Homo sapiens: one gene and its partner. The protein of the gene in region 1 interacts with the protein of each later gene in a pairwise test. Each region holds a gene or a part of one and is shown on either strand. Other genes may lie near its edges.

What was found.
Region 2: the proteins of CNOT6 (region 1) and PATL1 interact in binary tests that used the Homo sapiens proteins (3 or more experiments, as listed by UniProt).

Annotation. Positions count from the first base shown.
Region 1 is NC_000005.10:180,500,879-180,504,378, reverse strand, and holds part of CNOT6 (CCR4-NOT transcription complex subunit 6), read right to left. Parts: intron 1-3,500. UniProt on the Homo sapiens protein: Poly(A) nuclease with 3'-5' RNase activity.
Region 2 is NC_000011.10:59,652,038-59,655,537, reverse strand, and holds part of PATL1 (protein PAT1 homolog 1), read left to right. Parts: coding exon 1-15; intron 16-1,465; coding exon 1,466-1,555; intron 1,556-2,519; coding exon 2,520-2,700; intron 2,701-2,950; coding exon 2,951-3,074; intron 3,075-3,500. UniProt on the Homo sapiens protein: RNA-binding protein involved in deadenylation-dependent decapping of mRNAs, leading to the degradation of mRNAs. Acts as a scaffold protein that connects deadenylation and decapping machinery.

The sequences.
Region 1 (3,500 bases):
TATGAGCAATCAGTTTTGATCCACTAGTCTTTTCCCCTTAAAACTACAAAAGAAAATTATTCATAAAATGTTGACCTTACAAAGCATCAAGAAGCCTTTAACAACACCAGAATCTTACTCTAAGGCCACTGATAATGTTTCAGAAAATTTGAAAGCTATACACTGCTTTTTGACTACAGATGTATAACAGACTGCCTTTTCCAAAATAATGAAATGCTTTAGAACTGAATTTTTGACTAGCATGAAAAGTACTCTTATGTGGACTCTTGGGAGGTTTTTGATCCATAACCAAAAAGAGAATCACAAATATTAACAAAGATTCTGCCACTTAGTACTATTATGTCAACATGATCAACTACTAGTGTAAACGGTTATAAATTTGGGCCAACAATTGGGTTTTCCTATATTATCAAATTAACCTCAAAAGACCATTCCAAGTCATAATACCATGAGAGTGTGTTAAGAAGAAAAAGGGGCCAGGCGCAGTGGCTCACGCCTGTAATCCCAGCACTTTGGGAGGCTAAGGCAGGCAGATCACAAGGTCCAGGAGATCGAGACCATCCTGACCAACATGGTGAAACCCTGTCTCTACTAAAATACAAAAAATTAGCCGGGTGTGGTGGCGCACGCCTGTAGTCCCAGCTACTCGGGAGGCTGAGGCAAGGGAATCGCTTGAACCCGGGATGCAGAGGTCACAGTAAGCCAAGATGGCGCCCCTGCACTCCAGCCTGGATGACAGATTGAGACTCTCTCAAAAAAAAAAAAAAAAAAAAAAAAGGAAGTAGGGCACAGTGTCAGTAAGAATACAAACTGGGGCCGGGGGCAGTGGCTCACACCTATAATCCCAGCACTTTGGGGTGCCGAAGCAGGCACATCACTTCAGGTCAGGAGTTCGAGACCAGCCTGGCCAACATGGCAAAACCCCGTCTCTACCAAAAATGCAAAAAATTAGCCAGGCATGGTGGCGCGTACCTCTAATCCCAGCTGCTCGGGAAGCTGAGGCTGGAGAATCGCTTGAACCCAGGAGGCAGAGGTTGCAGTGAGCCGAGATTGCTCCACTGCATTCCAGCCTGGGCTACAAGAGTGAAAACTCCATCTCAAAAAAAAAAAAAAAAAGAAAAATACAAACTAGAGTCAGACCTGCATCAAGTCCTGGCTTGAAATGATGGGTTTACAATCATCTTTAATGCCTAAATTTCCTCACTTATAAATTGGTGGTATCTATGTCACAATTTTGGTGTGAGGATTAAATGAGACACATGTAAAGCAGCAGAGCCCACTGCACCACCGGCATTCAATATCATTTTTTTTCTTCAGTGGCTATGAACCCCTAAATCTTTGAGTTTCTATAGTTTCCATAAAACTAAAAACCAAATGACAATTCTTTAGTCTATAAACTATAGTTATCATTGTCATAATTTTAGATTAACAAAGGAAACTACTGGTCTAAAACATGGCAGTTAGCTTCATCAAATATTGTTTTATGATGCTGAAGTGTTTACTTAACAACAATACATAACCTTACAGAAGAAAAATATTTGCCTCCCAAAAGGCTGAGTGCAATACAATTTTTGATTTAACTTAGTCAAGTCATATCTTCATCTCTGTTTGGTTTTTAATTAGGAGAGATTACTAACACATCTATCTCCGTATAATCAAAATCTGCCTAGTAAAACTATATACAACCACTCAATGCACCTAATCACCTGTAATACTCTGTATTTGGATACACAGAGCCACTGGCTAATTTATTAAGTCTCTATGTGTTTGTAGCAATAACTTGGAAAGAAAATGACCATGTCTAATGATTTCCTCTTTGCTACTATTTTACACTTAAAACCGCATCAAATATTTAACCAAAGTTTGGGCAATGGAGCACAACATAAGTGCAAACCTAGTATATGGCATATGAAAGCAAATCTTATCCTTCTAGTAACTGAAGGCTGAAAATTGTAATATTATGAGTTTACATCAGATAATCTCTACCGCTAATGAGGACAAATCTTCTTCTTCTAGTAACTGAAGGCTGAAAATTGTAATATTATGATTTTACATCAGATAATCTCTATCGCTAATGAGAAAGAGTTTTTTTTATTGTTTTTGAAATCACATAAAATTCCGCAGGCAAAACAATTTTGTATCACCAAATAAAAATGCAATAATTTCAACCAATAGATCAGGGGAACGTTTGGAAACATACACGCAATATACATTATAAATTTATTTCCAAAGTTTTGGACTTAAGGAAACAAAGCTGGTGACTAACACAGGTGCCTACCTTCTCTCGACCCTGTCTCCTCTTTAAACTATTACCCTTCTTTCCTTCTCTTCTAGTTTAAATTTTTGCAAATAGTAGTCTATAACCTTCTTCATCTTAACCTCCCATTTGCTCCTCCGCCCAATCTACTATCTGACTTATATATGCCCTGGTCCCATAAAAATTTTCCCTGCATTCATTCCCCCACCTGTCAAATCCTATCAACCCATTTCCAGATCTCATCCCACCCTAAACCTGGGCACAATGATGACTACTGAAAACTCCTTCTTTCTTGGCACTATGACCTCTCTCGGCATCTGTAGCGTTACTCTCTCCTGTTCTGCCCTTGTCTCTTCAACCATTTCAATGCTGTCCAAAACAAAATATTAGCTGTTCCTTAGGGTTCCCTTAGTCCTCTCCTCTTGTGGTCCATAAGTTTCACACTTGCATATATGCATACTTTCATTCCCTTCAGCAGAGTCCATAATTCTTAACTGATTCTCAAATGGAGATCTTACCTCTGTCAAAAGGGTGAAAAACATTTGTTCACACACTCTTCCTGAGTAATCCCCTAACTTCCAATGCCAACTATACAATGACCAAATCTATCAAACCCCAAACCGCTCTCTGGTCCAGATATCTGTTAGACATATCCACCTAAGTATCCAGGAGGTATGTCAAACTTAACAGGATCAAAAATCAAACTATTCTACTTTCCTCGTCCAAATCTGTTCTTCTGTTTCCCAAGTTAAATCATACCAACAGTTCTCTAAGCTAAACAAGTTCTGAATCATACTCAACTCTTTCCTATTTTTATAGCTCATGGCTAGTCTGTCCCTAATTCTGGTATCCTGTGCTTTTCTATCCCCTATGCTGATGTACTTGAGCTCTCACAGGACGTAAATGAACTCTAACTCCTTTAATCCAGCTTCTACATTTTCATTATGTGCCTCCTGAAAAAGTATGTTACATGAACCACTTGCTCACCCATATCCACCTAAACTCTCACTGGATTTCTATCATATACAGGAAATCTCAACACTTTAAGAAAAACCCTACAACTATTCACAAGCTGTTTCTGACCACTCTTCCTGTCCCTCTCATCCCTGTGTCTTATGCTCCACAGCCCATGTTGTTCCCAATATGCTGTTCCTTCTCCCTGTCCTACTCAACCTAACAAATCCCTATCCATCCTTTAAAATCCAGCTTAAAGACCTCTGAGATGACTCCCTGGGTTTTCCAA
Region 2 (3,500 bases), on another chromosome or scaffold:
CCTGCAAAACCTAAGGTATACAAAATCAACGCCACTGTTTATCAGTTATCAGCCAAGTCTCTTGATTGTGGATGTGTAGTTTTATAAGTCTCTTGATATTTGCTAACTATAAATTTTAAGATGTTATTGGATCCTCAAGTTGGCAAACATGGAAATGTTTGACAATCTCCAGGCTTTCTTGTGAATCACATTTTTCTCACATTACCAGAGGGTATGGAATACAGTGACAGATGCCGAAAAGTCAGCTAATCGTCACACTAGCTAAGCTGTTTGCTTTTATCCTCTGGTTTTATGACAAAAGGGGTTCAAGTTCCTGTTTCAGTGAAGTTGTGTTTTATTACATATCATATTGTGGCAGTCAGGATTTTCAAGAGACACACGAGAACCAGTAGAGGAAAGAGAGCAAGAATGTTCATGTGAGCAGGTTTTATTTTAAGAAATTGGCTCGTGATTATAGAGGCTGACAAGTTCGAAATCTGTAAGACAGACCAGCAGGCAAGAAACAGGTAAAAGCTCAAGTTGCAGTCTTGAGTTTGAAATAAGTATAGCAGGTCAGCAGTCAAGACACTCAAGCAGGATTTCTGTGTTCCAGTTTTGAGGCAGAATTCCTTCTTCTGGGAAACTTTAGTTTTGTTCTTAAGGCCTTCAACTGGCTGGATGAGCTCCACCCACATTATTGAGGGTAATCTCTTTTGTAAGGTCAACTGATTATAAATGTTAATCACATCTTTACAAAATACCCTCACAGCAACATCTAAACAGTGTTTGACCAAATAACTGGGTACTAAGGCCTAGCCATATTAACTGTCACACATATATCTTTAATGACATTCCCACATAGTTGAAGCTGAGTACGTTAAACCTACTTAGAGACTTCTGTTAAACAGAAGCAAAAAGAAAAAGAATTATACTGCTTTACTCCTAATTCACTCAGATTTCATGATCACCCTTTTAGAACTTGGTCTTTGTAGAAGATATGTAAAAATATGACTATCTTTTGCTTCTAAAAGGTCTCCTTAGAATAGACTCTTTTTTTTTTTTTTTTTTTAATGTTTTTGAGACAGAGTCTCACTCTGTCTCGCAGGCTGGAGTGCAGTGACCCACACGATCTCGGCTCACTGCAACCTCTGCCTCCCAGGCTCAAGCGATTCCACTGCCTCAGCCTCCCAAGTAGCTGGGACTACAGGCGCCTGCTACCATGCCCAGCTAATTTTTGTATTTTTAGGAGAGACAGGGTTTCACCATGTTGGCCAGGCTGGTCTCGAACTCCTGACCTCAAGTGTTCCACCTGCCTTGGCCTCCCAAAGTGCTAGGATTACAGGCGTGAGTCACCGCACCCATCCCGAATAGACTTTTGTAGTCCCTTAAGTTAACCTGTATGAAGTTATCCTCTACTGACAACATTCTTTAAAATTTCAAGTCATCAGGATGACCAAACTGAGAACCTCTTTTCCGTTTTTCTTAGATCTCAGGCCCCAATGTTTAGACCGGACACAACTCACCTCCATCCACAGCACCGTCGACTCTTGCATCAGAGACAGCAACAGAATAGAAGGTAAGTACTCATCCGATTCCTTTATGGCTTCTTAATTCAGCTTTTAATTTTAACAGTGTAACAACATGCTATTTAGTTGTTTTGTTTTTTTTAGTAAGTTTACTTCATATCCATAAACCTGGATGTATTATCAACATGTAAATATGAAAAGCATAATATTGAGTAAAGAAGCAAGGAACAGAATTATATGTACCATTTATGTAAAACTAAAAGGCACACGGAATAATACTGTGTAATATTTAAAGACAGACACACAAGTAATAAACGTAGAAAAACATTTCAGGGAGGATACATCCATACCAAGGGCATAATAGTGGTTCCTCTATGAAGGAAGAGAAGCTGGAAACTGGGTCTAGAGGGGTACAACAGGGCCTCTGTCAGTGTAGCACTGTGTTATTTTAATATTACTTTAAAATATTTGAAGCAAATTCAACCAAATACATTTTTTTCTATTGGGTCTTGGTGATGGGTAAATGGATATTTATGATAGTATTTGCTGGGCTTTTTCTCTGCATTTGAAATATTTCGTGATTTTTAATGAGTTAAAACAATTTATGTAGACTTCAGAGCTAAATCGCCTGTGTTAAAATCCCTTAGTCCACCACTAGATGTATGGCTTTGGACAAATTACTTGATCTCTCTTGGCATCGATTTGTTGTCTTAAGTGGGGAAGAGAAAACTACCTACCTCACAGAGTTATTCTAGAGCTTATACAAAAGTCCATAGGTGAATATGCTTAGCATATGGTAAGGTACTCAGGTCTTAGTTTTATTTCTTCATTATTTATTACATAGCTCTTTCCTCTTAAATTCTATTAAGACTTAGTTCTTTTTCACTCCCCTTTTAAGAAAAGCAAACGGGAATCTTTAAAAAAAAAAAAAAAAACTGGCCTGGTTTATTCCTCTGTTGTTAAAAAGCGTAATTAATTTGCCCACATGGAATGAATGTGGTGTATGTTTTTCAGTCAGCATCGGAATCTCAATGGTGCGGGAGATAGAGGAAGTCACCGGAGCAGTCATCAAGATCATCTCCGAAAGGATCCATATGCCAATCTCATGTTGCAGCGGGAAAAGGATTGGGTCTCTAAAATCCAGATGATGCAACTGCAAAGCACTGATCCCTACCTGGATGATTTTTATTACCAGGTAAATACTCTGTGCTAGTTTTGAGGATAATAGTTTGGTCCCCTACACTGGTGAGGGTATTCATTTAAATATTGGTACAATTAAATATTTGTAAAATTTTCTTTTGAGGTACTTAGCATCTTGCACTATTCACTATCAGTATATTTCTAGAGCTGAACTTGTGTTACTGTCACTGGCATAAATTATTTGATGGTAAACAACAGTCGTGTTCTGTGCTTGTGTTACAACTGAAATCATCTTCTCGTGGTAGAATTACTTTGAAAAACTGGAGAAACTGTCAGCTGCTGAAGAAATACAAGGTGATGGCCCTAAGAAGGAGCGCACCAAGCTTATCACCCCTCAGGTGGCCAAACTGGAGCACGCCTATAAGCCAGGTAAGGTCCTCATAAGAAAAATGCCCATAATAAAAGAAATTTGAGAAGCTGCTGATGTGATTAAATATAGACAAGTGTATATGTGGAAGGATATGCAAAGATGTTTCAAAGTGATTTTAAAAGTACCATTGTTCTTAATAAATGCAAAAATCAGCCTTTATTCACGTCTGGACTGAACGCTTTGACATGTGCCTTTTTAGGTCCTTTTCTACTTGAGATTTCATGATTTTTTAAATGTGTTATAATTTTCAGTACCCCTAAAATAAATAAGGGGGAAATACTTCAGATTTTTATTGTGATAATTATTGTAACAGAGAGAAAGGATAGATTTTGATAAGGGGTTGCTTTAAATAATACATTGATTTTTTGTCTTTTTTTTTTTTTTTTTTTTTTTTTTTTGAGAAAGAGCCTTACTCTGTTGTCCAG